Homo sapiens: one gene and its partner. The protein of the gene in region 1 interacts with the protein of each later gene in a biochemical or structural test. Each region holds a gene or a part of one and is shown in the gene's direction. Other genes may lie near its edges.

Region 1 (3,747 bases):
GGCGTCCCGCAGGCCCAGCACAGGCCAGCCCTGTCCTGAGTGGGCCCTGGGCCCTGCCGTCCTGCAGGAGTGGGAGCTGCCCAGGGACGGTGAGTAGCACGAGAGCTGGGGTTTCTTACAGTGCTCTCCTGGTTCTGGATGTTACAGTGGATGCTCTTGAGGAATGACTTAGTTTTTATGAATTACTTCCTTAGATTGTAGGGGAGATTATAATTGGACACCCAGAGTAGGTACACTTCACAGCACTCCCTGTTCCCTTGTGGCTTTAGAAGCAGCTGGCAGGGATTTCCCACCCACCAGTGACACTCGCACCCTGCAGTCCTTGTTTCTGTGCTTTGAAAAGCACCTTCCTGGGTTGTCTTTCTTGGTTCCATGAGGTGGCCACCTTGTGAGACGAGAATTTATAACCCCCGTTTGCGGCAGGGCTCCAGGTGGTTGAGTCACACGTCTGAGGTCACACGGCTTTTAATAAAGGGGCCAAAGATGGAACTGCGGCCTCCCGCAAGTGCGCCAGGCTCCTGGCAGCTCGGCCTGGCCCTTCACGTCTCTTCCAGTGAGGCTCAGGTGGGTGCAGCCTGGGGTGGGACCCTCTGGTAGCCCTCGCAGGTCTTAGCACACTGTCTACTTCTTTTTTTTTTTTTTTTGAGATGGAGTCTTGCTCTGTTGCCAGGCTGGAGTGCAGTGGCATGATCTTGGCTCACTGCAGCCTCTGCCTCCTGGGTTCAAGCGATTCTCCTGTCTCAGCCCCCCGAGTAGCTGGGACTGCAGGCACGTGCCACCACGCCTGGCTAATTTTTGTATTTTCAGTAGAGATGGGGTTTCACCATATTGGCTAGGCTGGTCTCGAACTCCTGACCTTGTGATCCACCCGCCTCGGCCTTCCAAAGTGCTGGGATTACAGGCATTAACCACGGCGCCCAGCCACTTTGTCTGCTTCTTACGATACTAGAACTAGAGTGCAAAGGGCATCTTTTTCTGCTGGGACTGCAGCTTTTCTGAGATCTTGTTTATTTGCAAATTGTTAACCTCAGAGTCTTCTGAGCATGAAATGTTGGCCACTTTTCCTAACCAGCAATTTCATTTTCATTAAGGTTGAAATTATAAATTGAAAATGTTGGCTGGGCACGGTGGCTCACGCCTATAATCCCAGCACTTTGGGAGGCTGAGGTGGGCAGATCTCTTGAGGCCAGGAGTTCAAGACCAGCCTGGGCAACATAGCAAAACCTCGTCTCTACAAAAAATACAAAAATTAGCTGGGCACAGTGGTGCATGCCTGTAATCCCAGCTACTTTGGTGGCTGAGACACAAGAATCACTTGAATCCGGAGGCAGAGGTTGCAGTGAGCTGAGATGGTGCCACTGCACTCCAGCCTGGGTGACAGAGTGAGACCCTGTCTCAAAAAACAAGAACAATTAGAAAAAGAAAAAAAAAGTTCTGTTTAATAGTTCTTTAGTTTTGTGTTCATTTGTATGATCCACAAATATTTACTATCTACCTATACCTGGTCCTATGCTAGATGCTAGATACTTAAGAGTAAAAACAAGTTGGGTGTGGTGGCTTATGCCTATAATCCCAGCACTTCGGGAGGCTAAGGCAGGCAGATCACTTGAGCTCAGGAGTTTGGGACTAGCCTGAGCAACATGGCAAAACCCCATCTCTACAAAAAAATACAAAATCAGCGAGGTGTGGTGGCTCACACCTATAGTCCCAGCTACTCAGGAGGCTGAGGTAGGAGGATTGCTTGAGCCCAGGAGTTTGAAGCTGCAGTGAGCCAAGACCGCACGACTGCACTCCAACCTGGGTGTCACAGTGAGACTCTATCTCAAAAAAAACACAGCAGTAAAAACAGTAAAAACAATTGGTTGCGATGGCTCACACCTGTAATCTGAGCAGTGTGGAGGATCACTTGAGGTGCGGAGTGGATGACCAGCCTGGGCAACAGAGTGAGACCCTGATTCAAAATAAATAAATCAACAAACAAACAAACAACTGAGCCAGGTGTGGTGGCACCTGTAGTTCCCAGCTACAGCTAGATCCTGTCTCTATTTTATTAAAATAAAAAAGAAATTACTCTGCCAGGCTCAGTAGCTCACACCCATAGTTCTAGCACTTTGAGAGGCCAAGGCTGGTGGATCACTTGAGCACAGGAGTTCAAGACAGCCTGGAAAACAAGGCAAAACTCCATTTCTACAAAATTTCAAAAAATTAGGCATGGTGGCTTTTACCTGTGGTCTCAGCTACTCAGGAGGCTGAGGTGGGAGGATCACTTGAGCCCAGGAGATCAAGGCTGCAGTGAGCTGAGATTACACCATTGCACTCCAGCCTGGGTCTCAAAGAGAGACACTGTCTCAAACAACAACAACAAAAATTACTCAGAGTACCTTGTTTTCTGCTCTCAGACATGTACCTATTTTTCATTTAAAAAAAAGTTGAATTCAGCCAGGCACGGTGGCTCACGCCTGTAATCCCAGCACTTTGGGAGGCCGAGGCAGGTGGATCACCTGAGGTTAGGAGTTCGAGACTGGCCTGGCCAACGTGGTGAAACCCCATCTCTACTAAAAACCCAAAAATTAGTGGCGTGGTGGCACGCATCTATAATCCCAGCTACTCAGGAGCCTGAGGCAGGAGAATCTTTTGAACCCGGGAGGTGTAGGTTGCAGTGACTGGAGATTGCACCACTGCACTCCAGCCTGGGCAGGAAGAGTAAAACTCCTTCTCCAAAAAAAAAAAAAAAAAAAAGTTGAATTGTGTTTTATTCATTTTATTTTCATTTTTGAAATAGAGGCTCACTCTGTCGCCCAAGCTGGAGCTTAATGGCATGATATCAGCTCACTGCAAAATCTGCGTCCCAGGTTCAAGCCATTCTCCTGCTTCAGCCTCCTGAGTAGTTGGGATTACAGGCATGTGCCACCACACTTGGCTAATTATATTTATTTATTTATTTATTTTTGAGACGGAGTCTTGCTCTGTCGCCCAGGCTGGAGTGCAGTGGCGTGATCTCAATTCACTGCAACCTCCACCTCCCGGGTTCAAGCGATTCTTCTGCCTCAGTCTCCCGAGTAGCTGGGACTACAGGTGCCCGCCACCACACCTGGCTAATTTTTGTATTTTTAGTAGGGACAGGGTTTCACCATTTTGGCCAGACTGGTCTCGAACTCCTGACCTTGTGATCTGCCTGCCTTGGCTTCCCAAAGTGCTGGGATTACAGGCGTGAGCCACTGCGCCCGGCCTGTATTTATTTATTTTAATTTTTTTTTTTTCAGACAGAGTTTTGCTCTTGTTGCCCAGGCTCGAGTGCAATGGAGTGATCTCAGCTCACCACAACATCCACCTCCCTGGTTCAAGCAATTTGCCTGCCTCAGCCTCCTGAGTAGCTGGGATACAGGAGTTCGCCACCACACCCGGCTAATTTTGTATTTTCAGTAGAGACGGGGTTTTTCCATATTGGTCAGGCTGGTCTCGAACTCCCAACCTCAGGTGATCCTTCTGCCTCGGCCTCCCAAAGTGCTGGGATTACAGTCGTGAGCCATTGCGGCCAGCTGTTATATTTATTTTTAATTAATTAATTTTTTTGAGATGGGTCTTTATCACTCAGGTTGGAGCACAGTGGTGTGATCACATCTCACTGCAGCCTCGACCTTTTGGGCTCAAATGGTCCTCCTGGCTGGCGCTGTGGCTCACTCTTGTAATCCCAGCACTTTGGAAGGCTGAGGTGGGTGGATCACCTGAGGTAAGGAGTTTGAGACC
Region 2 (3,747 bases), on another chromosome or scaffold:
GGCTCACGCCTATTATCCCAGCACTTTGGGAGGCCAGGTTGGGAGGATCACATTGAGGCCAGCCTGGTCAACATAGCAAGACCCCGTATCTATTTGAAAAAAATAAAAATAAAGCAATAGCGTCTGTATTTTATTTTGTTTATTTTTTTTGAGATGGAGTTTCACTCTTGTCTCCCAGGCCAGAGTGCAATGGCATGATCTAGGCTCACTGCAACCTCTGCCTCCTCAGTAGCTGGGATTACAAGCGCCCGCCACCAAGCCCAGCTAATGTTTGTATTTTTAGTAGAGACGGGGTTTCACCATGTTGGCCAGGCTAGTCTCGAACTCCTGACCTCAGGTGATCCACCTGCCTTGGCCTCCCAAAGTGCTAGGATTACAAGCATGAGCCATCACACCCAGCCAGCTTCTGTATTTTGTATATATTTTTTAAATAATTATGTTTTTTTTCCTTTTGAGTAGCTGAGACAACAAGGACATGCCATTAGACCTGCCTGGCTAATTTTTGACATTTTTTGTAGCAAGAAGGTCTCACTATCTTGCCTGTTCTTGGGCTGAAGCGATCCCGCCCACCTCGGCCTCGAAAAGTGCTAGGGTTACAGGGCGAGCCACTGAGCCTGGCTGCATTGTCCTATTTTAAGTCTGGTTTCTGTATCTTGATCCATGATAAGATGTAATGTTGTTAAGTGAATCCTTAAATTATGTATATATCCAAAAATACTAATGTGTTCTGCAGAGGAATTACTAATTCTGATCTCTTTACTTTGAACTTTCCAGTTCTTGCCTGTTGAAAAGCTGAAAAAGTGTTACTTTTAAAAAGTTTGCTGATATCAGTGTAGTGTAGTATGCCAGTGTAGTTCTGTATTGTCTTGAATGTGACTGTGGTTTTGGGGGTCTAGAGATGTTCAGGAGAAAGGATCCTATATTTGTCACTTTAAAAAATATTACCAAGCTAAAGAGTGGTGTTTTATATTTGTTTCTTAGCATATTTTGTAAATCCATCTATTTATGTAATTTTTTTATGTTTTTCCTCTTGATTCTAAAAGTAGTATGTGTTCCTTCTGTTACATTTAGAAAACAGGTAAAAGAATAAAGTGATAATTACCTATCTGTAATTCCACTATTCTGTCATATTTACTCTCAGCCTTATTTTTATTTTTATTTTTTGAGACAGGGTTTTGCTCTGTCACCCATACTCTGGGGCACATACAGGTGGCATGATCATAGCTCACTGTAGCCTTGAACTCCTGGATTCAAGCAATCCCTCCTGCCTTAGGCTCTGGAGTAGCTAGGACTACAGGCGCCACTATGCCCGGCTAATTTTTAAATTATTTTGTAGAGAATGGGGGTCTTGCTCTGTTGCCCAGCTGATCTCAAACTCCTGGGCTCAAGAGGTCCTCCTGCCTCGACCTCCCAAAGTGCTAGGATGACAGGTGTAAGCCACCACACCTGGTACACGCTCAGCCTTTTAAGAGGAAGTTTTTGTTCCTCTAAAATTGTAGTTGTGATGTTTAGTTTTGTGTCCTCTCTTTTTGATTTAGCTTATTACAAGCATTTTCTCAGGTTATTGGTTGAACATATAACTGCCAGCCTTTAAAAAAACAGGCTCTTCTGATTATGTGAATATAGGAAACAGAAAAGGCAAAAATCCTGTTTCATGCCACTGGCTGATAGGTACAGCCATCCTTAGATGCACCCTTTTGCATTATTATAGTAGTGCAATAGGCTGTCGGAAACTTTGATAATTTGCTGCTAATTAACTGATAAAAATGTAGATGTTTCTCATCCGTGTGTAGAAGCAGAACCTAAGTTCACATTTTTCCGTATAACTGGTGGCCTGAGTTTCAGTTTGGTTGGTCAAGCATCTGATGAATTTGATAAAAAATATTTGAGATGGAGTCTCACTGTGTCACCCAGGCTCGAGTACAGTGGTGCAATCTCAGGTCACTGCAACCTCCGCCTCCTGGGTTCAAGCAATCCTTCTGCCTCAGTCTCTCCAGTAGCTGGGATTACAGGCCCCCTCCCACCATGCCCGGCTAATTTTCATATTTGTAGTAGAGAGGGTTTCACCATATTGGTCAAGCTGGTCTCAAACTCCTGACCTCAGGTGATCCACCTGCCTCATTCTCCCAAAGTGCTGCGATTACAGGCATGAGTCACCGTGCCTGGCCAAAATATTAAGATACAGTATGTCCACCAGAAAAACCTAAAGGCAGGATGGCAGCATGTAAATAGTATTTGAGGTCTCTGGCATCAGAACTAGGTTTTTTGGTTTTGGCTTTTTAGAAAATTTTTTAATAAAAAAATCAAGATATAATACATAGACCATAAAGTTTACCCTGTTAAAGTGTACAGTTCCGTGGGTTTTAGTATATGTATTCAAAGTTGTGTAACCATCACCATTGTCTAATTCCAGAATTTTTCATCATCCCTCAAAGAAACCTGATACCCATTAGTAATAATTCCCATTCCCCTTTCTTCCCAGCCCGTAATCTGTTTTCTGTTTCTATGGGTTAATCTATTCCGGACACTTCATTTAATGGAATCATGATTTATGGCCTCTTTGTCTGGCTTTTTTCACTTGGCATGATGTTGTCAAAGTTCATTCATAATGGCCGGGCGCGGTGGCTCACGCCTGTAATCCCAGCACTTTGGGAGGCTGAGGCGGGCAGATCACGAGGTCAGGAGTTCGAGACCAGCCTGGACAACATAGTGAAACCCCATCTATACTCAAAATACAAAAATTAGCCGGGTGTGGTGGCAGATACCTGTAGTCCCAGCAACTCAGGAGGCCGAGGCACGAGAATCCCTTGAACCCGGGAGGTGGAGGTTGCAGTGAGCTGAGATCGTGCCATTGCACTCCAGCCTAGGTGACAGAGTGAGACTCTGTCTCAAAAAAAAAAAAAGAAAAGAAAAGAGAAGAAAAAAGTTCATTCATATTATAGCGTATATTAGTACTTCATTCTTTTTTTTTTCCTTTTCATTAAATTCACATAAGCACCTCATTTCTTTTGATGGCCAAATAGTAATTACATTGTATGGATAAACCACATTTTATTTATCCATTCATCAGATGATAAAAATTAGGTTGTTTTCACTTTCTAGCTCTTCAACATTCATGAACAAGTTTTTGTGTGGGCATGTGTTTTAAATTCTCTGATAAATACTTAGGAGCGGAATTGTGTCATGGTAACCGTCTTGAACATTTTGAGGACCTGACAAACATTTCCATTTTACATCCTCGTTTACATCCCCACTAGCAATATATGAGGGTTCTAATTTTTCTGCAAGACTCAGGTTTTTAAATATCTGTTCTTCTGTTTCTGTGACTGTGGGGGACATTTCTGGACATTAAATGTCTCATCTGAAAAATGAAAGGTTATTGTGAGAATTAAAGTCCAAAAATGTATAGAATCACCTACTATGCTTAGAATGCAGTAAATATTCAATTTTAAATTATTATTTTAAACTATTACGCAGCCTGGGCACCATACCATGGCAAGACCTCATCTCTACAAAAAAATTTTAAAAATTAGCTGGGCATGGTGGCGTGCCCCTGTAGACCCAGCTACTAGGGAGGCTGAGGTGGGAGGATTGCTGGAGCCCAGGAGTTTGAGGCTACAGTGAGCCATGTTTGCACCACTGCACTCCAGGCTGGGTGACAGATCGAGACCCTGTCTCAAAAAACAAATGTATATATATGTACACACACACACTTATAATTATGAAGGTATATTTCAAACTTGTAGA

What was found. Proteins that work in one complex are often made in the same cells at the same time.
Region 2: the proteins of RAB11FIP3 (region 1) and ARF4 form a complex in vitro, tested with the Homo sapiens proteins (one study listed by IntAct).

Annotation. Positions count from the first base shown.
Region 1 is NC_000016.10:477,568-481,314, forward strand, and holds part of RAB11FIP3 (rab11 family-interacting protein 3), read left to right. Parts: exon of another isoform or gene 1-89; intron 90-3,747. UniProt on the Homo sapiens protein: Downstream effector molecule for Rab11 GTPase which is involved in endocytic trafficking, cytokinesis and intracellular ciliogenesis by participating in membrane delivery. Recruited by Rab11 to endosomes where it links Rab11 to dynein motor complex.
Region 2 is NC_000003.12:57,590,628-57,594,374, reverse strand, and holds part of ARF4 (ADP-ribosylation factor 4), read left to right. Parts: intron 1-3,747.